7 linked regions of the Homo sapiens genome follow. The protein of the gene in region 4 interacts with the protein of the main gene of each other region in a pairwise test. Each region holds a gene or a part of one and is shown on either strand. Other genes may lie near its edges. The genes, in order: ZNF474, TRIB3, DNAJA3, TCF19, E2F6, NOXA1 and NGFR.

Region 1 (3,500 bases), on a different chromosome or scaffold from region 4:
ATTAGTGTCTGCAATTTCCTAGTATCAAGGAAAATGATAAACTAAAATTCCTCGGTGAACAGAGCCAATAAAGCAGAATGGTTTGTGGAAATAACCCACGGGCTGGATTTAAAACCTAATGAAATAATTTTACCCTATTCCTATGTTCCATAGATCTACTTTCTCTTTTAGATGGTACTGATCGAGTGATAAATTTCTCTGTTTTATTTTCTATGCTGGCCACTCTGGGGCCAACACATACTTTTCCCACATCTGTTAACATTACTGTCTTAGAATCTGTCAAAATGAAGAATAACTTCTTTCTCTGTGCCAGACCTGATTTGATACTCTTAAAGGCAAGGATTCAGACCTTTGTTGGCACCAAAGTACAGGAGCTGGGCACAGATATCACAGCTCTTCTTGTTCTTTATCAAATCCAGTGCCCAGGGTTTCCATATTACCAGGACTGCTGGCCTTGCACTGTCCAAACTGAAGTGTTTGCCGTGATGTAGAGGATCCAGCTTCATACCAGGGGCTGCTCTTCTGTGGTTAAGAATGGATGCTTTAGAGTTTATCACCCTGATAAATGAAACGATAAAGGAAATGAAAAAGGTCCTGAGGCTTCTGAAATAATCTTTTTGGGGAGCCAGATTATAAACCCACGGTAAAATTTACTCATAACTTTTCCCAATATACAAATTTAAGATTCTTCCCATAAATGGATATCTAAGCTGCCACTTCTTCTGGTGGGGATCCTTGGGGAATCCAGGGCCTTTGTTTTATATTTAAAAATATTTGGAAGTCATACATATATAAAACAAGAAAGTAGGTATGATACCTTTTTAATAAAAAAAGAGCCTCAAGCAGCATCTGTGTATCATCTTTCCATGAAAGATCTGCAGATATCCCACCAGGATGGGTGCCGGCCTAGGCTGTACTCTTTGCTGGAGAATTATAGCTCCACTTTATTAATACCCTATTCCCATAATAAACAAAAGTGAATACATGATGTGTCACAAGAAGTTTATGTCCCTCTGAGGGCTATCCTGATAATCCTCATAAGATTCATTCTTGAATTACTTCTTCTGCAAGAGTTCTTAATTTCAGGTCCATGGACACTCAAGAAGTCTGTGACACAACTTTACCTCAATTAAAATGTATATCACAACTAGAAACAGTTGACAAATTATTTCAGTAAAACTGATTTCACCTGTGATAGCAACAATTTTTATTTTTACTTATAAAAATACTATTCTGAGAAGTGCATAGGCTTCACAGAATTGTCAAAGGAATCCATGTCACTAACAAGTTAAGGATCTCTGACGTAGTGGAAGTTTCTGTGGGGCCCAGGGGGTCTTTTCGTATGACCTGCTGATTTCATTAATCTAATATTCACAGTTTGCAGTTTTCTCTTCTATGGTCTCACCACCCTGGTCTCAGCCTCTATTGCTTTGCGTCTTCTGTATCTATGATGTGCTGTAATTGTCAAGTTAACTTTTTGGGCAGAACACGATTTTCAATACAGTGATAGTGCAATTGATGATGGAAGATTTCCTCAGGTTTATGTCAGTTTATTGACCAAATCCCATATGCTGGTTACTGTGCTAGTCAAAAAGTATACAAGGTCAATATTTAAAACAAGCAAAAAAAAAGCACACACACACACACAAAACAACCTAAATGTGTGTGTGTGTGTGTGTGTGTGTGTGTGTGTTTACATAATAACTTCTTATGTCTCCCACCCGCCTCCACAGATCTTGGAGACATCTCAGCTTTAATGAGGACTTTCCAACATTCCAGACTGCCGTCCTGCAATGAAGCTCTGAGTCACGGTCTGTGAGGCTAAGGTACTGGCAACGGTGTGAACCCCAGGACAACTAACCTCACTAACCTTCACTCTAAGCAGAAGCCCAAAGTGAGTCTGGCCTGAAATCAGAGCAAGCACTACAGAAAGACATCTTTGTTAATGGAAAGAGGAAAGAAGAAAAGAATTTCCAATAAGTTACAACAAACTTTTCACCATTCTAAAGAACCCACTTTCCTTATCAACCAAGCTGGGCTTCTCTCTAGTGACTCCTATTCTAGCCTTTCCCCAGAAACAGAGAGTGTTAATCCTGGTGAAAATATAAAGACAGACACTCAGAAAAAGAGACCTGGGACTGTGATACTATCAAAACTGTCAAGTAGAAGAATTATATCGGAAAGCCAGCTTAGCCCCCCTGTGATCCCGGCCCGCAGGCCTGGATTCCGGGTATGCTATATCTGTGGCCGAGAATTTGGGTCCCAGTCAATTGCCATTCATGAACCCCAGTGCTTGCAGAAGTGGCATATTGAAAACAGCAAGTTGCCCAAGCATTTGAGGAGGCCAGAACCCTCCAAACCACAGTCTCTCAGCAGCAGTGGGTCCTACAGTCTTCAGGCAACTAACGAGGCTGCATTTCAGAGTGCCCAGGCTCAGCTGCTGCCCTGTGAATCCTGTGGCCGCACATTCTTGCCAGATCATCTTCTTGTTCATCACAGAAGCTGCAAGCCAAAGGGTGAGGGTCCCAGAGCACCACACTCAAACAGTTCTGATCATCTTACTGGCCTCAAGAAAGCTTGTAGTGGAACCCCAGCCCGACCAAGGACTGTTATCTGCTACATATGTGGTAAGGAATTTGGCACCCTGTCCCTTCCTATTCATGAGCCCAAATGCCTGGAAAAGTGGAAAATGGAAAATGACCGGCTCCCTGTGGAGCTCCACCAGCCACTCCCACAGAAGCCTCAGCCCCTTCCGAATGCACAGTCCAGCCAAGCGGGACCAAATCAAGCTCAGCTTGTGTTCTGCCCACATTGTAGCCGAATCTTTACCTCAGACCGCCTCCTGGTACACCAGAGAAGTTGTAAAACTCATCCTTATGGGCCAAAATATCAGAATTTGAATTTAGGGAGTAAAGGAGGCCTAAAAGAGTACACTAATTCCAAGCAGCAAAGGAACAGGGCAGCACCCAGTGTAACTGATAAGGTAATTCATGCCACACAAGACGCATTAGGTGAACCTGGTGGTGCCCTCTGCCTGTAGGGGAACAAGAGAAAACTATCCCCAGAATCAGCCACCTCAGCCCCTAGTATTTTTTCTATCAATGCCTTGTATCAGCCTCAAAGCAGCCTGTTCAAGTTAACTCCCTGTTGAACTCCAGGGCCTATACCTCTCTTGGCTGAATAGATATAAGAACATCCTTGCCTGATGGGTTCATATTCCTCTTCAATTCTGCTGTCTAAAAGAAGAAGAGATGGACTTCTTTCTTCCCTGATCCCTGATACAAATAATCCCTGGGAGAGACAGTAATTTGAAAATGAGTCATTAATGCTGTGTCTACATTACAGAGATATAATTCCCATTCCAACAGCCAATATTTATTGTCGGTTTATTTTAGTCATCTACCTTAGGAATTCATTTTTGGCAATGCTGGGTTATGCTGAGTTTATCTTACTAAAATAGAATCTGTGTCAAAAACCCCCAATGACTTTAGCAACAATTA
Region 2 (3,500 bases), on a different chromosome or scaffold from region 4:
GGAAGGCTGAGGCGGGAGGATCACCTGAGGTCAGGAGTTCGAGACCAGCTTAGCCAACATGATGAAACCCCATCTCTACTAAAAATACAAAAATTAGCTAGGTGCGGTGGCACATGCCTGTAATCCCAGCTACACTGGGGGCTGAAGCGGGAGAATCACTTGAATCCAGGAGGCGGAGTTTGCAGTGAGCTGAGATTGCGCCAGTGTGCTCCAGCCTGGGTGACAGAGCGAGACTCCGTCTCAAAAAAAAAAAAAAAAAAAAAAAGCACAGACAGTGGAGTGCATACGTGCAAATCTCAGCCGTGCTGTTTGCTGGCTGTGTGGCCTCTCAGCTTCGTTAACCGTAAAATGGAGCAAGTCATCCTACCTTATAGGACCATGGTCAGGGCTGAGTGACTCGGTCAGTGAAGCGCTTGGTGCGATGCCTAGCACATGGTAGTGTCTAATAGGTCAGCTGTGACTGTTTGCAATGCCAGCCTCAGCTCCCGGGAGTCCCCAGCTGTGCTAACACCATGCTCTGCCCACAGGTGTACCCCGTCCAGGAAGCCCTGGCCGTGCTGGAGCCCTATGCGCGGCTGCCCCCGCACAAGCATGTGGCTCGGCCCACTGAGGTCCTGGCTGGTACCCAGCTCCTCTACGCCTTTTTCACTCGGACCCATGGGGACATGCACAGCCTGGTGCGAAGCCGCCACCGTATCCCTGAGCCTGAGGCTGCCGTGCTCTTCCGCCAGATGGCCACCGCCCTGGCGCACTGTCACCAGCACGGTCTGGTCCTGCGTGATCTCAAGCTGTGTCGCTTTGTCTTCGCTGACCGTGAGAGGTGAGTGTGGTCTCAGAGACCCCAGCCACAGACACACCCAGGGGGTGGGCCATGATGGAGAGAAACCGAGGCCCAGGAAGGCAAGGTAACTTAGGCAAGAAGTGGGAGAAACTGAAGTAACCAGCAGCCCCTGTTTAGTTCCCTGAGAAGAGTTGACTCAGGCCAGGTGCAGTGGCTCACGCCTTTAATCCCAGCACTTTGGGAGGCCGAGGTGGGTGAATCACTTGAAGTCAGGAGTTCGAGACCAGCCTGGCCAACATGGTGAAACTCCGTCTCTACTAAAAATACAAAAATTAGCCTAGTGTGGTGGCGCACACCTGTAATCCCAGCTACTCTGAAGGCTGAGGCAGGAGAACTGCTTGAACCTGGGAGGCGGAAGTTGCAGTGAGCCAAGATCACGCCACTGCACTCCAGCCTCGGCAACAGAGTGAGATTCCATCTCAAAAAAAAAAAAAAGAGTTGACTCAGTCCTCTTGGGAGCCCCTTGGGATTCTGGGATGGAGCACTGAGATGTGAAAGTCATAGTAGCCGACAGTGACGAAAGCATCGCCACATTATCTAACGTGGTCTTCCATCCTTACAAACACGAGGCAGGTACTGTTATTATCCCCATATGATCAAGGAAACTGAGGCCCAGAGAGCTCAAGTAACTTGCCCAAGATCCCATAGCAGAATAAATGGTAGAGCTGGGATTTGAACCTAGATCTGACTCCAGAGCCTGGGTCTTAATTCAATCTGAGCTTGAGAGGCAGGGGCCTGGCTGGGCTTACCAACTGACTTTGGGTGACCTAGTGTCTCTGAGCCTCAGTTTCTCCGTTGGTAAGGAAAAGGGCTGGATTGTTAGGGTGTTTTCAGGATTCCAAGACCACAGCCAAAATAGGGTCTGAGGTTCCCCACACGGGAACGTTTTCTGTGAAACTGAGAATTAGCACTTTTTGGTTAAAAGAATCTTCCTTCTCTAGGTTGGGATGCTAAGAATTTTTTTTTTTTTAATTGAGACAGAGTCTCACTCTGTCACCCAGGCTGGAATGCAATGGCGCGATCTTGGCTCACTGCAACCTCTGCTGCCTGGGTTCAAGTGATACGCCTGCCTCAGCCTCCCGAATAGCTGGGACTACAGGCATGCGCCACCATGCCTGGCTCATTTTTTCTATGTTTAGTAGAAACGGGGTTTTGCCATGTTGGCCAGGCTGGTCTTGAACTCTTGACCTTAGGTGATCCGCCTGCCTCGGCCTCCCAAAGTGCTGGGATTACAGGTGTGAGGTACTGCACCCAGCCTAGACGCTAAGAAAAATTTTTAAAAGATAATTCTGGGGAGAAGGGCAGAGAGACTCGCCTCCTGTTCCCTCTCCAGATTCCTGGGGGCAGTCAAGATGTGTCAGGGAGTGCACTAAGCTGCCAGTTACACAGGAGTTTTCTGTGGAGAAAGGAGTGTGACCCCATGGCATTTTAAAAAACTTTTTATCTTGAAATAATTTTAGACTTTTAGAAAACCTACAAAAATAGTTCAAAGAGTTTCTGCATATCCTTTAACCAGTGCTCTCCAATGTTAACACCTGACGTAGCTATGGTACAATTACCCAAACTATTAACTAAGCCACAGATTGATTCCCACTTCCCGAGTTTCCCACTAACACCCCTTGCTGTGCAGGATCCAGTGAGGATCCCAATTTAGTCATCAGTGGTTTCCTTGGTCTCTTCCAATCTGAGACAGTTCCTCAGTCTTTCCCTGTCTTTGAAGACCCATGACCTTGACACTTTTTTTTTTTTGAGACAGGGTCTCACTCTGTCACCCAGGCTGGAGTGCAGTGGTGTGATCACAGCTCACTGCAGCCTCAACCTCCCGGGCTCAAGTGATCCTCCCACCTCAGCCTCCTGAGTAGTTGGTTCTACAGGTGTGTGCCACCCCACCTGGCTAATTGAGATGGGGTCTTGCTATGTTGCCCAGGCTGGTCTCAGACTCCTGAGCTCAAGCAATCTGCCTGCCTCAGCCTCCCAAAATCCTGGGATTATAGGCGTGAGCCACTGCTCCTGGCCATAACCTTGAGACTTTTGAAGAGTACTGATCAGTTACTTTGTATGTCCCTCAATTTGGATTTGATTGATGTTTTCTCACAGTTAGATTGCAGTTATGTATTTTTGGCAAGAACAACACAGAATCGATAGGCCCCTCTCCACATCATATCAAGAGATACTTGAGCTGATAGTCATTCCTATGTCGTGACCTTGATCACTTGGTTAGGGCAGGACCTACCAGGTTTCTCTACTGTAAGGTCCTAATTTACCCTTTGTAATTGACAAATACCTTGGGGGAGGTAAGCTAGGCATATAAATATCCTGTTTTTCCTCAACTTTCACCCACTAATTTTAGCAGCCATCCATCTTGCCTATAGCAGTTATTATTGTGGTGCTTGCCTAAGTCTAATTTTCTTTTTCTTTTTTTTCTTTCTTTCTTTTTTTTTTTTTTTTGAGACAGAGTCTCGCTCTGTTGCCCAGGTTGGAGTGCAGTGGCACGATCTCGGCTCACTGCAACCTCCACCTCCCGGGTTCAAGTGATTCTCGTGCCTCAGCCTCTTGAGCAGCTGGGATTACAGGCACACACCACCACACTTGGCTAATTTTTGTATTTTTAGTAGAGATGGGGTTTTGCCATGTTGGCCAGGCTGGTCTCGAAATCCGC
Region 3 (3,500 bases), on a different chromosome or scaffold from region 4:
TCCATCACAGAAAAAAAAAAGAAAAAAAAAAAGAAAGAAAAATAAGCCTGGGCACAGTGGCTCTCGCCTGTAATCCCAGCACTTTGGGAACCTGAGGCGTGAGGATCGCTTGAGCCCAGGAGTTCGAAACCAGCCTGGGCAACACAGAGACCCTGTCTCTATTAAAAATAAATAAATAAATGGATCAAAGACTTGAACTTATATGACATACTAGATGTTTGTAAATAAACTTATGACATGGAAAAAAAAGAGAGAGAGACAGAAATAGGCTAAAGAGGACTTTGAATCCATACAGATTTATACCTATAACTAAACTAGATGGCAGTGGTGGTAGTGGTGGTTAGAGATGATAACGATTAATGGGGCCTAGGAATAGGAAGGGCCTTAGAGCTATGCTAAGGAGTCTGGATTTTATCCTAAGAGCAATAGGGAGCCACTGCAAATGTTAAACAAAGAACCCATTAGGTTTGCATGAGAAACAACTCTAGGCCAGGCAAGGTGGCTCACGCCTATTGTAATCCCAGCACTTTGGGAGGCCGAGGCGGGTGGATCACTTGAGGTCAGGAGTTCGAGACCAAGCTGGCCAACATGGTGAAATCTTGTCTCTACTAAAAATACAAAAATTAGCCGGTCATGGTGGTGCACGCCTGTAATCCCAGCTACTTGGGAGGCTGAGGCATGAGAATTGTTTGAACCTGGGAGGCTGAGGTTGCAGTGAGCCAAGATCGCGCCATTGCACTCCAGCCTGGGCGACAGAGCAAGACTCCACCTGAAAAAAAAAAAAGAGAAACAACTCTAGGAAGCCTGGGAGACTACTCGAAGTTAATCAGCACAAAACACAACCAGAGGTTGGTTGAGCACATCCAAGTAGGAGGCCAGGTAAAGGATGATCAGACAGGAGAATGGATAGGAATGGTCAGGATACTTAAAATTAGAAATAGGAAATAAATCCGTGTGTTTGGCACACCCAATATCCTCGGGATACAAAAAGCACACTGGAAGTAGTAGGGGTCAGGAGACCACTTTGTGTTTCTTCAGTCAGACTTGAGAAAACACTAGACCTGACTTATTATTGAACTTGTACTCAACCCTCTTTTTATTTCGGAGTAAGGGGTTGCCCGGCCCAGTCCAGCCTCTCTCTCACCACTCATTCCAATGCCACAAGGCGGAGGCTGGTAGTGACCTGTGGCAGCTGTGGCTTCAACATTACGGGCAGAGAACACGGACAGGAGTTAGTACAGAGATAGTAACGCACAAAACTGCATGTGGATAAAGACAAATCACGTTTAATTACAAGACTGATGGCTTTGTTTTTTCTTTTTTTGAGACAGAGTCTCACTCTGTCACCCAGGCTGGAGTGCAGTGGTGTGATCTCGGTTCACTGCAACCTCCATCTCCCAGGTTCGAGCGATTCTTCTGCTTTAGCCTCTCAAGTAGCCAGGACTATAGGCGCACACCACCACACCTGGCTAATTTTTGTATTTTTAGTAGGTAAGAAGTTTCACCATGTTGGCCAGGCTGGTCTCGAACTCCTGACCTCAAGTGATCCGCCGGCCTCATCCTACCAAAGTGCTGGGGTTACAGGCATGAGCCACCATCCCCAGTCTGATGACTTTTGACATTATCCATAGGGCATCAATGATTAACAATAATTAGATTTCATTTAATAGACTATTTATTTTATCACATATGACCAGTAAATGTCCTGTCCTTTTTAGAACAACCCAGAATAAAATAAGCCTCCAAGTCGTTCTAAGAATGGCCAACCCACTGTCCAACAACTGCTTTCTTTTTTTTTTTTTTTGACAGGGAGTTTGGCTCTTGTTGCCCAGGCTGGAGGGCAGTGGCGCGATCTCGGCTCACTGCAACCTCTGCCTCCTGGGTTCAAGCGATTCTCCTGTCTCAGCCTCCCGAGTAGCTGGGATTACAGGAACCCGCCACCACGCCTGACCAACTTTTTCTATTTTTAGTAGAGACAAGCTTTGGCCATCTTGGCCAGGCTGGTCTCAAACTCCTGACCTCAGGCGATCAACCCACCTCCCAAAGTAATGGGATTGCAGGCATGAGCCACCATACCTGGCCACCAACAACTGCTTTCTTTCTGCTTGGAAGAAAAGTCACATCTAAAATGTTGTTATGTCATCTTACTACTAGATTTGAGACAAGATCACAGACTAGTGTTTGGACGCTGAGTTAATGACCTTTTCAAAATTTTTTTTTTTAAGAGACAGGGGTCTCATTATGTTGCCTAGGCCAAATTCAAATTCCTGGACTCCAGCAATCCTCCCACCTCAACCTCCTGAGTAGCTAGGACTATAGAGGCTCGCCACCACATGGCTTCTCAGTTGATGACTTTATTAATTTTTTGGTAGAGAAAGAGTCATACTCTGTTGCCCAGGCTGGAGTGCAGTGGCATCATCATGGCTCACTGCAGCCTCAACCTTCTGGGCTCAAGTGAAACTCCCACCTCAGCCTCCCAAGCAGCTGGGAGTACAGGCAGTTGCCACCATAGTTGGCTAATTTTTTTTTTTTTGAGACACAGTTTCGCTCTTGTTGATCAGGCTGGAGTGCAATGGCGCTAACTCGGCTCACGGCAACCTCCGACTTTCACGTTCAAGCAATTCTCCTGCCCCAGCCTCCCGAGTACCCGGGTTTACAGGCATGCGCCACCAGGCCTGGCTAATTTTGTATTTTTTGTAGAGACGGGGTTTCTCCATGTTGATCAGGCTGGTCTCAAACTCCTGACTTCAGGTGATCCGCCCGCATAGGCCTCCCAAAGTGCTGGGATTACAGGCGTGAGCCACCATGTCCGGCCACAGTCAGCTAATTTTTAAAAATCTTTTTGTAGGCCGGGCGCGGTGACTCACACCTGTAATCCCAGCACTTTAGGAGGCTGAGGTGGACAGATCATGGGTAAAGAGATCGAGACCATCCTGGCCAATATGGTGAAATCCAGTATCTGCTAAAAATACAAAAATTAACTGGGAGTGGTGGCACGTGCCTGTAGTCCCAGCTACTCAGGAGACTGAGGCAAGAGGATCACTTGAACCCAGGAAGCGGAGGATGCGGTGAGCCGAGATCACGGTGAGTCAAGATCATGGTGAGCCGAGATCGCACCACTGCACTCCAGCCTGGCTACAGAGCAAGACTCCGTCTCAAACAAACAAACAAAAAAAATCTTGGCCGGGCGCGGTGGCTCACACCTGTAATCCCAGCACTTTGGGAGGCGGAGGCGGGTGGATCACGAGGTCAGGAGATCGAGACGTCCTGGCTAACACAGTGAAACTCCATCTCTACTAAAAATACAAAAAATTAGCTGGGCGCGGTTGCAGGTGCCTGTAGTCCCAGCTACTCGGGAGGCTGAGGCAGGAGAATGGCCTGAACCCGGGAGGCGGAGTTTGCAGTGAGCCGAGATCGTGCCACTGCACTCCAGCCTGGGCGACAGAGTGAGACTCCGTCTCAAAAAAAAAAAAAAAAAAAAAAAATCTTTTTGTAGAGAT
Region 4 (3,127 bases):
GCCTCAGGACTTTGCTGCCATTACCATCCCACGGTCTAGGGGAGAAGCCCGGGTTGGGGCTGGTTTCCGGCCTATGCTGCCCTCCCAGGGGGCTCCACAGCGGCCTCTCAGCACCTTCTCCCCTGCCCCCAAGGCCACACTGATCCTAAACTCCATAGGCAGCCTCAGCAAGCTCCGGCCCCAGCCCCTCACCTTCTCCCCTAGTTGGGGTGGACCAAAGAGCCTGCCTGTTCCCGCCCCACCTGGGGAAATGGGGACCACGCCTTCTGCTCCACCACAACGCAATCGGAGGAAATCTGTTCACCGAGTGTTGGCGGAACTGGATGATGAGAGTGAGCCTCCTGAGAACCCGCCACCGGTCCTTATGGAGCCCAGGAAGAAACTCCGTGTAGACAAAGCCCCACTGACTCCCACTGGGTAAGTGGAGTCCTCACTTGGCCCTCTCAGTGTTTTACTGCTTTTCGATTCCTTGTATCCCTAGGCTGTGAGGAGGTCCCCCTGCCTGGGGGGATGGGCACGGGAGGTGGAATAGATGGAATGGCAAGACCTGGGTTAGCTCTGATAGGAAAAGAAAAATATGTGCAGGAGAACATGAGAGGTGGGGTGGGGCAGTGCTTATAAAACAACCGGAGTGAGCATGTCCTGCTTTTTACATTCATATGGCTTTAACCCCATTCTTCTAGTGCCTAAGGATGGGGAACTTTCAGGCTCATACTAGAGGTTTTTAGGCCCACCCTATGTGTTTTTAAGGACAGAGTCCAGGCTCACCTTAGTTCTCAGACCACTGTGCCTCTGTGGCCTCACCCTATGACCAGCCATAGGGTGGCAAGGTCTAGGCCTTCTCCTACAGGTTTCCGGTGACCCTTGTGTCTGTGTCACTTCCTTCAGAAATCGACGTGGCCGTCCTCGGAAGTACCCAGTGAGCGCTCCCATGGCTCCCCCTGCAGTTGGGGGCGGGGAGCCCTGTGCAGCTCCTTGTTGCTGCCTGCCCCAGGAAGAGACAGTGGCCTGGGTTCAGTGTGATGGCTGTGACGTCTGGTTCCATGTGGCCTGTGTTGGCTGCAGCATCCAGGCTGCCAGGGAGGCCGACTTCCGATGCCCAGGGTGCCGGGCTGGCATTCAGACCTAAGGTCCACTGCCAAGGCACCATCGGACACACCTGCCCATGAGTAGACACAGCAGCGAGCAAATAGGTCTGATAAATACCCCCCTTCCCTTCCCTCCCCAGGAGGGAATGACTACAGGGAAGAAGGATGGATTGATGTGGACTCATTCAGGGCCTGGAGCAGACCCTGGTGGCCAAGACAGAAGAGATGGTTTCCTGCCAAAGATATTGCCACCTCCAGGAAATTGCCAGTGAGCTGGAAGTTCCCACTATTACAAGCCATAAGGCCATGTTGCCATGGACACCAGAATATCTGTAGTCAGAGCACCTATCAGTTGCAAAAGCCATGCCTGCAACCGATGGAAAATGTAAGAGGGAGTTCTTAAGGTTCTTGGTGGCATCACCCAAGGCATTCTGGGAAAACCTAGGGCCTGGCCCCAAAACTTCCCTACTCTGTGGCTAGTCCTGCTGCCAACAAAATCGTAGCGACCTGGCTTTTCACAGCTTTGCTTTTATTTCCAAGTCAAGGACAAGCCGCTTCATTCACTCCTGGGCATTTACTCTTCTTGTGGGTCTGTGATATTCCTTGCTTTCCAGGGAGAATGTGCTTGGCAAGGTCTGGAGAACTAATTCAGAATCTTAGGGGAAGGGGAGAGATGGAAATACAAACCTGCTTACTGGAAAGGTGCAAATATATGGGTTGAGCTGGAGGTAGGAATACAGGTAATTAAGGTTTCTAGTTTAAGGGAAAACAGATCTATTGCCATTTAAATAAGGTAACTGGGATTTGGTTAAGTTCACAAAGATAGCAGAAGATTTATTTACAGGCTTCACCTGTACTGTCAGGGCAAGAGAAAGCCTGGTAAACCAGCTACAGCAGTTTACCAGTGTGATGGCTGTGACACAGCTCCACTCCACGGGTGGACACAGCAGAGGGCAACTGGGCTGGCCTGGTTCAGTGTGAATCAAACCGCTTAACCCACACATGGTACATGTGATTTTCTTTTGTGAGCCTTACACCAAGCCAAACTATTGTCAAAGCATCATTTCTATAGAAATAAAGCCTTATCTTGACCTGTTCTATTAAAACCTGCCACACCCGCCCTTTCCTACCTAGATTTAATGAGCCCAAGTTTTTAAAATGGAAGAAATGACTCTGGGGCAAAGACCCCTAATGAACTAGTGGCAGAGCCAGGAATAAAACTTGAGTAACTAATGAGTCACTTATGGGCAGAGTATGCAAAAACCTTAAGTGGAAACCAAATAGACCCTGGTATCAAGAAAGCACAAAGTATTAATAGAAGTTTCTGGTTGGGGTGATCTAGGTTCAACAGAAATAAGATGATTTCTAAGTATAAAGCCATTTAAGAATTCCAGAGTAGGGTGGGAAAGCAAAAAGCCAGCTCTGAACAGGTAACAGCTACATGGTGACTGAGTCTATGGGCAAAAGTTCTTGCATCACAGGCTTTTGGGAACTAGCCTATCACAGGGCCCTGTACAAATAAACTTGGCTGCAATCCCAGCTCTCCCTCTGATGTTGTGTGACCTTAAGGAGTGTAAATGGCACCTTAGTTTCAGGGTCACTTGGGTATGAGCATTGGATATTCCCATCCCTACCTCAGTAACTGAAGGACAAACCAAGATAAGTGTGTCTATCTACTGTGTCCCAGGCTTCTTTATTTAAGAAAAAAGTGATACATGATGTGGGATTAAAATCAAGAGCATCATTGAACTTCACCTTCCCTCCAACCAGTTGCCCCAAACTCCCCTGCCCCCACCCTTTGTGTTCCCAATTCCTTCCTTAGTGAATGAAGAACTTAATCCCAAAAACCCTGGCACAAACTCCAGGTTTTCTTTCCCTAGCTCCTCCCCTCCCCCTGTCCCCCATTCCTAGAAGGGCAGGCACCTCAGTTTGAATGCATGGGAGAGCCCAGAGTGGTGACGGAGACAGGGGGAAAGGCTTCCCCCTCAGGGAAAGGGACCGAGGAGTACAGTGCAGTGAAGTGAGGGCTCCCATAGCCT
Region 5 (3,500 bases), on a different chromosome or scaffold from region 4:
TTAAAAGAAACAAGGCAGTAGAGAATGGGTAGACAGAGCAGACCAGGCCCTTGTAGGCTGTTTCTTGCTTAATGCCGCAGCCTCTTCTTCCAGCATGCTGCCGCCCTCCTCCACAGCACAAGCTACACCACCTGTGATCCCCAAAGCACCCCAGGTTCTCTAAGTCTGCTTTGTCTTCTGAGGTGTGGTTTCCTCTCCCTCACTTCAGCCCCTCACCCTCTGTCACAGTGGGCAAACACCGCCCATTCGCCTTCCTGTTCCCTATGCCCAGTGTACTCCCATCAAGAGGCCTTCCCAGTTTCCCCCTCCAGTGAAGGTTTGATTTCTTGCCATCGGGTGACTTTGAATACCTCTCTTAGCACTTACCTCAGGACATATAATAGAGTTCCTTATTAGACTACGGAGTTGCTTTGGTGTGAAGACCTCTGTAATCCTATTCATATCCCCTCAGCAACTGTCACATTTTTGGTGTTCCGTTGTACATGTTCTTTATAAAATAACATAGAAATATGCTTATCCTGAGCATATAAGACCATGCCTTGTTAATAATTAGTATAATTAAATATATGCTTTTTAAAGTTAGAATTTCTCATTTGTAATCTTCCTGAGTTTGTTGTAGAATTGTGACCCTCTACTTCCGATTAAAAATCCTTTTAAATTCCTAATTTACGCCTATTTAATCTTAAGTGTAGGAATGGGCTCCAGAGAGAAGACATTTATATTATGAAATATGTACCTTTGTTCCTGAAGTAACCGCCAGTGGTCTTTAAACTAAATGTGACATTGTGGAGGTTCTGAGTAAGGACATTTCTGACTGAAGGTAGGATGGACATTTCTTTGAGGCATACTGACTGTGGTGTGCTGTGGAAGTAGAGAAAAAGAAAGTCATATATTCCACACCAGAGTGACAAAGTTATTTTAGAAATTATTTTTTCTGCAAACCAAGCCATAAGAACTTTTTCTTAGTATCAAATTGGAAAAGATGACAAGATACTTAGTTCTGGCGAGCATGTGAGATGAGGCCCGTGTATACTGCATAGAATGGATAGAACCCACAACCTGCAGAGCAGTTTAGCGGCACATATCAACATTCCTTAAAAATGTCCAGTTAAGGGGACATACAGTAGTTTCGCAACAAAAAGGTTCATTGAAATATGAAGCAAAATCGTAAAGTTGGAGATGGTCTAATTTCTAATATTGGGATAAATAGCAAATACTGCATACAGTTAAGCATGCAGCCATTAAGAATAATGTTGAAATACATTTGTTGACATGTCAGGATGTTCACAATATGGAGTTAAAAGAACGTGTTGCAAAATTGCATGGTCCTATTTTTGTTTTTAAAAACTATATATATGATTGGCACACAAGTGTGAATGTGTTAGAGGTGTGTGTGTGTATGAAAACCCCAGTCATTATAGTAGGTGAGTGAGGGAATTAAGGGATTTTTTTTTTGTCTATCTGTTAAATTAATATAGGGTAGTGAATATTTTTAAAAATAGAGATACTGGGCCAGCCGCGGTGGCTCTTAATGCCTGTAATCCCAGTACTTCGGGAGGCTGAGGCAGGTGGATCACAGGGTCAGGAATGAATTCAAGACCAGCCTGGCCAATATGGTGAAACCCCGTCTCTACTAAAAATGCAAAACAATTAGCCAGGCGTGCTGGTGCATGCCTGTAATCCCAGCTACTCCGGAGGAGAATTACTTGAACCCTGGAGGCGGAGGTTGCAGTGAGCCAGGATCGCGCCACTGCACTCCAGCTCCAGCCTGGGCAACAGAGCGAGACTCTCTCAAAAAAAAAAAAAAAAGAGAGAGATACCACTGTTGCTCGAGGTATGTCATAATTGTCTTAATAGAAGACTAGTTTGGGCTCTTTCAAAAAAATTCATCAGACAACTTACACTATGACATGGATAGAGTCATTAAAAGGGGAAAAAAAGCCGCCAATTCTCTGCCTTTGCTTTGTAAAGAATTCCTTAACTTGAAGACCAAATGAGAAATTTAATTTTAAAAATCATGTGTAATTCTATTCCTGAGAGTGGTATGGATGCAAATTAATCTCACTGCTTTGTCCGAGAAGATACAGTAGACTTGTGAAAGTCCACATGTTCGGTGGACACTGGTTGCATATTTCAAATCCTCCTTTGTTTAAATCTAAAGCCTTTGTTTAGAGCCAGGATAGGCCAGTGAATTTTTTCTCCAATTTAAGAGATTTATTTCATAGAAACCAGCTTTGATTTGGTCAATGTGTAGGCATTTCTGTAGATGTCTGCTATCTGATCAAGAGGAAACAGATGATTTTTAAAAATGAGTTGAGAAATGTTATTTAAAATTTTACAAATATGTTTATTTTGTTTCCCAGAAGCTCTAAAAGTGAAGAGACCTCGTTTTGATGTATCGCTGGTTTATTTAACTCGAAAATTTATGGATCTTGTCAGATCTGCTCCCGGGGGTATTCTTGACTTAAACAAGGTTGCAACGAAACTGGGAGTCCGAAAGCGGAGAGTGTATGACATCACCAATGTCTTAGATGGAATCGACCTCGTTGAAAAGAAATCCAAGAACCATATTAGATGGATGTGAGTTGCTTTCAAACTTTTTCGTGGCTTTTGTTCCTTCTCATCAAGTGACAATTCCATGCTTAAACTAGATAGTGGCAGTGTTTTGACAATATAATACAAAGGTACGACTTCTTGTTAGAAGAGAATTCTATAAAATTTTCTTGCATCATCCTAGAGAGTACATAAATTTTTTAAAAAGTATTTCCTCAGTTCCAATTGATTATTGATATTGGGAAAATTTGTTAAGGTTGTAAAACAGTGGTTTTCACACAGAAGTGTAGTAAACACCTAGAGGCTTACTGCCTCTGGAGTTGTAATTCGGTAGGTCTGAGGGAAAGCAGGAAAGTACATTCTCAACAGGTAGCCCAGGAGATTATGACGTAGCGAGGTGTTTAAAATACTGCCCTGAATATTAAAAAAAAAAAAAATCAGACAGTGTCTAAAAGACAGTTGCTAAAGACTTGACATGATGAGGAGAAATCCAATGGAAAGGGAAGCTTAAGACATTGACATAGATAAAGGTATCTGTGTGTGCACACATGAGAATGCTGTTGTACCTAGAATAGGCAAGTATTTGGGGACAGGGAGAAATAGTTACAGCAAATAAGTACATAGTGACCTCTCAGGCAAATGAAAACCTACCAGCAAAGACCATAAAATGACCCTAAATAATTAACTTAGTTATTAGAGGAAAGGGATTCATAAAGGAGGTAATTTTTTCAATAGTACAGAAGTACAGGTTGAATTCTAATTTGAGCATGTTTACTAAATAACACTAAAAAACACTTTAGGAGTTTATATCGGCATGCATTGTGAATCACTAATTAGAATCAGATTTGAAAACTACCAAGTAAAAGATAAAGGCAAGGACCTTTCCCTATTTATTTTCCATTAAGATTGAAAGAAAAAAATGAAAATCAGTTGTTGCCTGGTCATAT
Region 6 (3,500 bases), on a different chromosome or scaffold from region 4:
CTTCAGCCCGAGGGGTGTGGACAGAGACTGGGCAGGTGAGGGGGGCTTGCAAGCCTTGATTCTGAGGGATGGGGCTTGGCCTCAGCCTCCCTCAGGTGACTGACAGGTGAAGGGTCTAGAGCCTCTTACCCCAGCACCCGCGGGGTCCTCACAGGGGCCGGGGCCAGGCCCCCCCATTGCCGGCAGCCCTGTAGGACAGAGCAAGACTGACACAGCCACTACCACCAAAGTGGGCCCTGTGGGTGGAGGGCAGCCGGCACCCATGCACCAGCAGCTTCCTCCTTCACCCGGGGACCCCGCCGCTGAGGACGCCCATACCTGGGGAGAGAGGAGCCTGTTTGCCAACTTGCTCCACCTGGGGCCTCTGCAAGAGAAGCACAGGCTGGGTGGGCTGGGGCGGTCAGGTGCTGGAGGCCGGTACTGTCCTCGCAGAGCCCACACCAAGGGTGTGGCCTGTGTGCCCGGCCAGCACCCAGCAGGTGGTCTGTGGGTGTTGAATTCAGGGCACTGGCCACAAGTCGGCTGCCTTAGGATGGGGCTGGGTCCCTGCAGACCTAGAGGCTGCCTGTCACCAGGAGGGAGCGCCCCGTCCCCCAAGGCCCACCGAGGTGGCAGCTCCAGGTGGGTGGGCTCCCCAGTGACCCCAGGAAGCTGAGGACCCAGTCCCTGGGCCCCGGCCTCTGTGTGGGCTCGACATTAACCGTGTGCCCTGAGTTGGGCACTGAGCAGGAGACCAGTTCACCAGCTGCAAGTCACAAAGTCACAGCCCAGCGCTGGCTAGACCCTGAGGGTCAGGCATTGCTGTTGTTTTTTGAGAGGGAGTCTCGCTCTGTCGCCCAGGCTGGAGTGCAGTGGCGCCATCTTGGCTCACTATAAGCTCCGCCTCCTGGGTTCACGCCATTCTCCTGGCTCTGCCTCCTGAGTAGCTGGGACTACAGGTGCCCGCCGCCATGCCCAGCTAATTTTTTGTATTTTTTAGTAGAGACAGGGTTTCACCATGTTAGCCGGGATGGTCTCGATCTCCTGATCTTGTGATCCGCCTGCCTAGGCCTCCCAAAGTGCTGGGATTACAGGCGTGAGCCACTTCGCCTGGCTTTTTTTTTTTTTTTTTTTGAGACAGGGTCTTGCTGTCTTGCCCAGGCCGGAGTGGAGTGGCACTGTCATGGCTCACTGCAGCCTCCACCTCCCAGGCTCAAGCAATCCTTCCACCTCAGCCTCCCACGGTGCTGGGATTACAGACCACTGTGCCCGGCCTCGATTGTAACTTATTATTAGATTTATCAGATGGTTGAAGTTGCCTTAGGTTAGGAAGGACGAGAGCTTAAAGGCCCATCGTGGGAACTGGGCAAATAGTTCCAAACCCTGAGGGAATTAGTGAAGCACAGCTTGGAGGGCGCCCTTGCCCCCGGGATGCCACGGTTAAACTGGAAGTGGGCATCCATAAAGAGAGAGTGCCGGGGCTGCTTCCTGATCGCATCCTCAGATGCGCTCAGCGTGAAATGCAGGTGCCTTCTCTGGGCCTCCCGGATCCTGCAGCAGAGCCTCCGCCCACGGCTGCCACCCTGGGAGCAGCTGGGGTTCCTGCCTTCCTCCGCCTCTCCCCAGGTGCCGGGGTGTCCGGGAGGACTCGGGGGATGGAGTCGCTGCTGGGCCCCCATGGGGGGCGGGAGCCTTGGGGCCCCTCCAGAGCTGTCCTGCCTCCCGCCTGTCCCCAGCTGGGTCACTCCTGGTCACTCGCACCCCAGTGGGAGGGGAGGGGCAATGGCCAAACTGAGGTGGTCCTGGGGGCTGAGGGCCTGCAGGGCTACGTGGATGTCTCCACTGGACACCACCTCTCTCCTGTCCTGATGGCCAATGCCCACTCGCCTCGGGCACAGCCAGGCATCCTCCCATCTGGCTGGGCTGGGCCAGGACCACGGGTGAGCCCGGCCCCGTCTACCCCCCAGCGAGCTGCTCCCTCCACCCTCATGTTGGTCCCATTGTGGTCCCCAGTCTGCGGAGGCAGCAGAAGCACCGACCCCCAGCAGGGGAAGAGGCCCAGGCCCACGCACCTGCTCCTGGTAGGCAGTCGACGTGCAGCGGTCAGCACCGACCTCTGTCTCTGCATCGAGGGGGCCCTGGTGGGTGCCAGCTCTTGGGGAGTCCATGATTAGGGACCTAGGGAGAGGAGGGAGGCTCTCAGGCCCTGCCCATCTGACTGCCCTCCTGTGCCCGGCCCGCGTGGCCCCATGTGGAGGGCCTCTGCCCAGCAGGAAAGGCACGCGCTCGCAGGGCCCAGTCAGCCCCTCCTACCTGGCATCATGGTTCGCTCCTGGTCCCTGTGGACACAAAGCAACAACCTCGCTCTGGTTAAGGGTCGGGGGCCGCCCTCCCTCCTCCTGAACCTTGAAGAGTGGTTTCCCCAGGTCTTACACAGGGATGGGATGGCCACCCCACACCTCCCATCAGAGGAACTTCGCAGCCCCAGGAGGGCTCAGAGCTTGTGCAGCATTTTCTTTCCCAGAAAGCTGGGTGAGGCCAGGCAGGGGTCTGAGGGGCCGCAAACCCACCTGTGGCTGCTGAGGGCGGACGCCCCAGCCCTGGTCGTCGGGGATGGCAGAGGCCACCACCTGGCGGGGACAGTGGGGACGCTGGGTCAGGGATCAGCGGCCCAGCAGGGTCTGCTCCCTGCAGCCCGCCCCACCGTGCCCCGCAGCTCTAAGTCCCCGGGGGCTGGGTGACAGCTGCCCATGCCCGGCCCACGTCTGCCAGACCACCATGGAGGGAAATGTCTGATGGAGAAAAACATCTGCTGCAATGTTAACTTATTTTTAGCACAACTTTAAAAACATTTTGGTTTCTTATAAACAGCACTCTACTGTGATATGCGGACTCTAAGTTAATGCATTAACACAGCTCAGAGCCCGGCTTCGCCCACCCCAGGCCTCCCCTGCTGGGCAGCTGCACTGGGCCCAGGAGTCGGCCGTGGCGCAGCGCAGGTGACCGAGGGGGCGTGGCCAGCCAATGGGGCGTGGCCAGTCCGGGGCGTGGCCAGCCAAGGGTGACCCAGTCTTTGCCCACCAGGAGTTCTTCTTCTCCGCCATGTTTCGCCCGCTGCCTTTGGGGGTGAGCAGCTCCCCATTCCTGTGACTTTAGGGGTGTTGCCTGGCTCTGACCCAAGTGTGGGCGTGACGTGGCCCAGACCGTCGGACTGCAGCCCCTGCCCCCGTGAGACCTTGCTATCTGTGGCAGGGACACAGGGACCCCCCCAGGGACCTCGCTATCTGTGGCAGGGACACAGGGAGACCCCCCGGGACCTCGCTATCTGTGGCAGGGACACAGGCACCCCCGCCCCCCGGGACCTCGCTAGCTGTGGCAGAGACACAGGCACCCCCCCCGGGACCTCGCTACCTGTGGCAGGGACACAGGCACCCCCCTGGGACCTCGCTGTCTGTGGCAGGGACACAGGCACCCCCCCGGGGACCTCGCTATCTGTGGCAGGCACACAGGCATCCCCCCAG
Region 7 (3,500 bases), on a different chromosome or scaffold from region 4:
AACCAGGGAAGGACAGATTGTTCAGAATGTGGAAGCAGAAGCAGAAAGGCTAAAGCGCCATTAGGGGGAAACTGAGGCCTGTAGGGGGGTCTCAACATTATTCAAAGGCATCAGAGACAAGATGGAGCAAGGGGTCACTGGCTTCGGGGGTGTGGTGGGGGGATGAGGAGGCAAAGAAGGAAAAGCCAGAGAGAAGTGAAAGGGGCAGAACTGGGGACAAAGGCTGGGCGTGGTGGCTCACTCCTGTAATCCCAGCACTTTGGGAGGCCAAGGCGAGCAGATCACTTGAGGCCAGGAGTTCAAGACCAGCCTGGCCAACATGGCAAAACCCCATCTCTATAAAAAATACAAAAATTAGCTGGGTGTAGTGGTGCACGTCTGTAATCCCAGCTACTCGGGAAGCTGAGGTGGGAGGATTGCTTGAGCATGGGAGGCAGAGGTTACAGTGAGCCAAGACTGCACCAGTGCACTCCAGCCTGGGTGACAGAGTGAGACGCTGTCAAAAAAAAAAAAAAAAAAAAAAGAAAGAAAGAAAGAAAAAGGGTAGAGGAGAGAAGAAAAGACCCAGGAAGAAGGGCCTGGAGGGAGACTTCAGTTTCAAGTGAATTCTGACAGAGGAACCCTGTGTCCCTTTTCCTAGGAGCAGGCAGATCTGGATTCAAAATCCATTTCCATCGCTTATAAGCTGTGTGACTTTGGGTGTTTTACTTAACCTCTCTGAGCTTTTTCTTTCTCTGTAAAAATAAGGAGCAATATCTGCAGTCACAGGGTTGTAGTGAGGAATAAATGAAATTCAGCCATAAAGCTTTGGCACGTAGTTGGGATCCTATAAAGATTGGGCCCCATGGGGGTGGAGAGCGATGAGGACATTGAACTTTGGAGGTAGGAATATGGTCAGACAGCAGAAAGAACGTCCAAACACAAACAGCAAAGGCAGGATGTCTGAGCTATACAAACAAGAGGGTCCTGGCTGGCTGGCGTGTGATGGAGGGTAAGTCTAGTCACACAGGAGGGGAAGAGGAGAAGCCTGCTCATGGCAAAACACAGAAAATTAGCAGAAAACTCCTGGGAGAGGGTTTTAGGTGGTGTGAAAAATGTGGTCTTTTTTGGCAGAGAATGAAGGCAGGGGCTTAATAGGTTTCCTTGTGGAAACGTTTTAAGGGTAGAGGGAAAGTCCGCTGGGGTCTCCGTCCCATAAAGTGGGCTTGTAAAGGCAGCCTGTTAATGCAGCTGGAGGTGGAGGAGGGGGAGACAGGGAAGGAGGGGAAAATGGAGGGGAGGGAGGAAGTGGAAGGGAGGATTCTCAAAGCCACCTCTCTGCCTGCCTCCCTTCCCTTCCAGAGATTCTGGAACTTCCCTCTCCTGGTGTCCTCCGCCCCACCTCCTGCTGAAGGTCCTTTGACTGAAGGGAAAGGGTTCCCATCATTTAGGTCCTGGGAGGAGAGTCCTGGGCTGGAGTCTAGGAAGCAAGAGAGGCAGATTTGGAGGTTCTGGGATAGCTGATGGTTGGCCACCCCCGCCCTGGAATGGAAACCCTGTTAGGCCAGGGCCAGAGCAGGTGGCCATGAAGCAAGACGGCAAAGGCATTGGAGGATGTCCCACCTCCACACATACGCCCAGGCATTTCTTGGCTGGGGAATGGTGTTACAGGATCCACAAGCACAGAGATGGGAAAACAGTGTGTCTGGGGAACACCAAGAGTTGGGGTTGCCTGGAGGACAGATAGACTCAGGGGGGACATCCAGAGGTAACACTAGGTCCGCAGGTGGGTTCAGAGGCCCCAGCTCTATCCCCTTATTCCCAGCCGGATTAAAGAATAATCTGAGTATGGTTCCCTCGAGCCCTCCAGGTGGGCATCGAGTGCCAGGTAGAAGGCAGGGAGTCAGGAAAAGGGCAGGGAGCCCACGGCCCAAAGGCAGCAACTGAGGACTGGGGGCACCGATCAGGGACCGAGACTCCTGACTCAAAAGCATGAGGGAATTCAGACCCTGGACAAGACTGGGGCCAAGGGGCCCAGACCCACCAGCCCAGGAAGATGAGATTCTCTCCCCTCCTGAAAGAAATCCCAGGCAGGGTCGAGCACGGTGGCTCACGCCTCTAATCCCAACACTTTGGGAGGCTAAGGCAGGTGGATCACTTGAGGCCAGAAGTTTGAGACCAGCCTGGTCCACATGGTAAAACCCCATCTCTACTACAAATACAAGAATTAGCCAGGCATGGTGGCATGCATGCACCCGTAGTCCCAGCTACTCAGGAGGCTGAGGCATGAGAATCACTTGAAACCAGGAGGTGGAGGTTGCAGTGAGTTGAGATCATGCCATTGCACTCCCAACCTGGGCAACAGAGCAAAACTCTGTTGAAGGAAGGAAGGAAGGAAGGAAAGGAAAGAAAGGAAAGAAAGGTAAAGAAAGAGAGAGAGAGAAAGGAAGGAAGGAAGGAAGGAAGGAAGGAAGGAAGGAAGGAAGGAAGGAAGGAAGAAATCCCAGGCAGGAATGGGCACAGCTCCCCGTCTCCCCTCCCCTCTGTCACCCCACAGTAAGGACGTCTTCATGGCGCTCTGACCCCCATCCCTGCTGCCTCGGGAAAACTCTGCTTCCTGGTCAAAGCTGGAGAAGAGTTGGCCTGTAGGGAGGAACAGCCACACCCCCAGGATCCCCCAAGGTCAGCCTTCAGGGCAGCCAGGATTTGATCCTCCTCTCCCTTCCCCCAAACACACCGGGGATAAGTGGCAGCCATTGATTTTGCAGTGCAGATGATATTTTTAGCTGGTCTTAGCATCAGCTACTCCTCCCTGCCCAGCCACACTCTTCTACCAAGCCTCTGCCTTCTCCAGAGCTGGGAATGGGCACCCCTTGGAGATCCCCCATGGGGTTCCCCTCCTCCCTCTGCACACTTCCCTTCTCCATTCTCAGCTTCTCGAATCTGGGAGAAGCGCCTCCTACACTGGGTCAGACCCACTTCTGATGACCTTACAGTGGTGGTCTTATAAGGCCTCTACTGGGCATGCTTCTCCCCAGCGCCCCTCCCTTTCACCCCTCTCCTCCCTCCCATTCTTCTCCCCTCCTCCTGCCCGCCACCCTCTACTCACTGTCCAGGCAGGGCTCACACACGGTCTGGTTGGCTCCACAAGGCTGGGCCACACCCTCGCCCAGGTTGCAGGCTTTGCAGCACTCACCGCTGTGTGTGTACAGGCCTGTGGGGCATGCCTCCTTGGCACCTCCAAGGGACACCTGGATGGAGGGAGATCGGAGGGTCAGACTGGCAAGAGAAAGCTGGGGTGGGTTGGGGGGGGTTCTTCCGGGGAATCAAACACCCTCCTCCCACTGCCTTCTATTAGAACCACCTGGGCTGGGATGAGCTCACCAGGGAGGCGTTAGGAACATCAAAGCTGACAGGGGAAAGGCAAGTGAGGGACAGTGTGCCCGTGCAGGCTGCTGGGGGTGTGAGGTCAGAGCTTCAGCTGCTGACCTTCTGCAAAGTTCATCCTGGGGTTACAGCAA

The links.
Region 1: the proteins of TCF19 (region 4) and ZNF474 interact in binary tests that used the Homo sapiens proteins (3 or more experiments, as listed by UniProt).
Region 2: the proteins of TCF19 (region 4) and TRIB3 interact in binary tests that used the Homo sapiens proteins (3 or more experiments, as listed by UniProt).
Region 3: the proteins of TCF19 (region 4) and DNAJA3 interact in a two-hybrid assay, tested with the Homo sapiens proteins (2 studies listed by BioGRID and IntAct).
Region 5: the proteins of TCF19 (region 4) and E2F6 interact in binary tests that used the Homo sapiens proteins (3 or more experiments, as listed by UniProt).
Region 6: the proteins of TCF19 (region 4) and NOXA1 interact in binary tests that used the Homo sapiens proteins (3 or more experiments, as listed by UniProt).
Region 7: the proteins of TCF19 (region 4) and NGFR interact in a two-hybrid assay, tested with the Homo sapiens proteins (one study listed by BioGRID).

The regions. Positions count from the first base shown.
Region 1 is NC_000005.10:122,150,046-122,153,545, forward strand, and holds part of ZNF474 (zinc finger protein 474), read left to right. Parts: exon of another isoform or gene 1-558; intron 559-1,733; 5' UTR 1,734-1,945; coding exon 1,946-3,040; 3' UTR 3,041-3,500.
Region 2 is NC_000020.11:390,760-394,259, forward strand, and holds part of TRIB3 (tribbles homolog 3), read left to right. Parts: intron 1-527; coding exon 528-820; intron 821-3,500. UniProt on the Homo sapiens protein: Inactive protein kinase which acts as a regulator of the integrated stress response (ISR), a process for adaptation to various stress. Inhibits the transcriptional activity of DDIT3/CHOP and is involved in DDIT3/CHOP-dependent cell death during ER stress.
Region 3 is NC_000016.10:4,428,868-4,432,367, reverse strand, and holds part of DNAJA3 (dnaJ homolog subfamily A member 3, mitochondrial), read right to left. Parts: intron 1-3,500. UniProt on the Homo sapiens protein: Modulates apoptotic signal transduction or effector structures within the mitochondrial matrix. Affect cytochrome C release from the mitochondria and caspase 3 activation, but not caspase 8 activation.
Region 4 is NC_000006.12:31,161,589-31,164,715, forward strand, and holds the end of TCF19 (transcription factor 19), read left to right. Parts: coding exon 1-417; intron 418-888; coding exon 889-1,129; 3' UTR 1,130-1,228; coding exon of another isoform or gene 1,229-1,238; 3' UTR 1,239-2,627; downstream 2,628-3,127. Other genes in the region: POU5F1 (POU domain, class 5, transcription factor 1), read right to left, coding at 3,013-3,127. UniProt on the Homo sapiens protein: Potential transcription factor that may play a role in the regulation of genes involved in cell cycle G1/S transition. May bind to regulatory elements of genes, including the promoter of the transcription factor FOXO1.
Region 5 is NC_000002.12:11,452,662-11,456,161, reverse strand, and holds part of E2F6 (transcription factor E2F6), read left to right. Parts: intron 1-687; exon of another isoform or gene 688-820; intron 821-2,363; coding exon 2,364-2,580; intron 2,581-3,500. UniProt on the Homo sapiens protein: Inhibitor of E2F-dependent transcription. Binds DNA cooperatively with DP proteins through the E2 recognition site, 5'-TTTC[CG]CGC-3'. Has a preference for the 5'-TTTCCCGC-3' E2F recognition site.
Region 6 is NC_000009.12:137,429,893-137,433,392, reverse strand, and holds part of NOXA1 (NADPH oxidase activator 1), read right to left. Parts: intron 2,772-3,500; coding exon of another isoform or gene 2,643-2,771; exon of another isoform or gene 2,618-2,642; intron 2,610-2,617; coding exon 2,550-2,609; intron 2,319-2,549; coding exon 2,293-2,318; intron 2,158-2,292; coding exon 2,052-2,157; intron 365-2,051; coding exon 319-364; intron 189-318; coding exon 130-188; intron 1-129.
Region 7 is NC_000017.11:49,501,793-49,505,292, reverse strand, and holds part of NGFR (tumor necrosis factor receptor superfamily member 16 precursor), read right to left. Parts: intron 3,231-3,500; coding exon 3,089-3,230; intron 1-3,088. UniProt on the Homo sapiens protein: Low affinity receptor which can bind to NGF, BDNF, NTF3, and NTF4. Forms a heterodimeric receptor with SORCS2 that binds the precursor forms of NGF, BDNF and NTF3 with high affinity, and has much lower affinity for mature NGF and BDNF.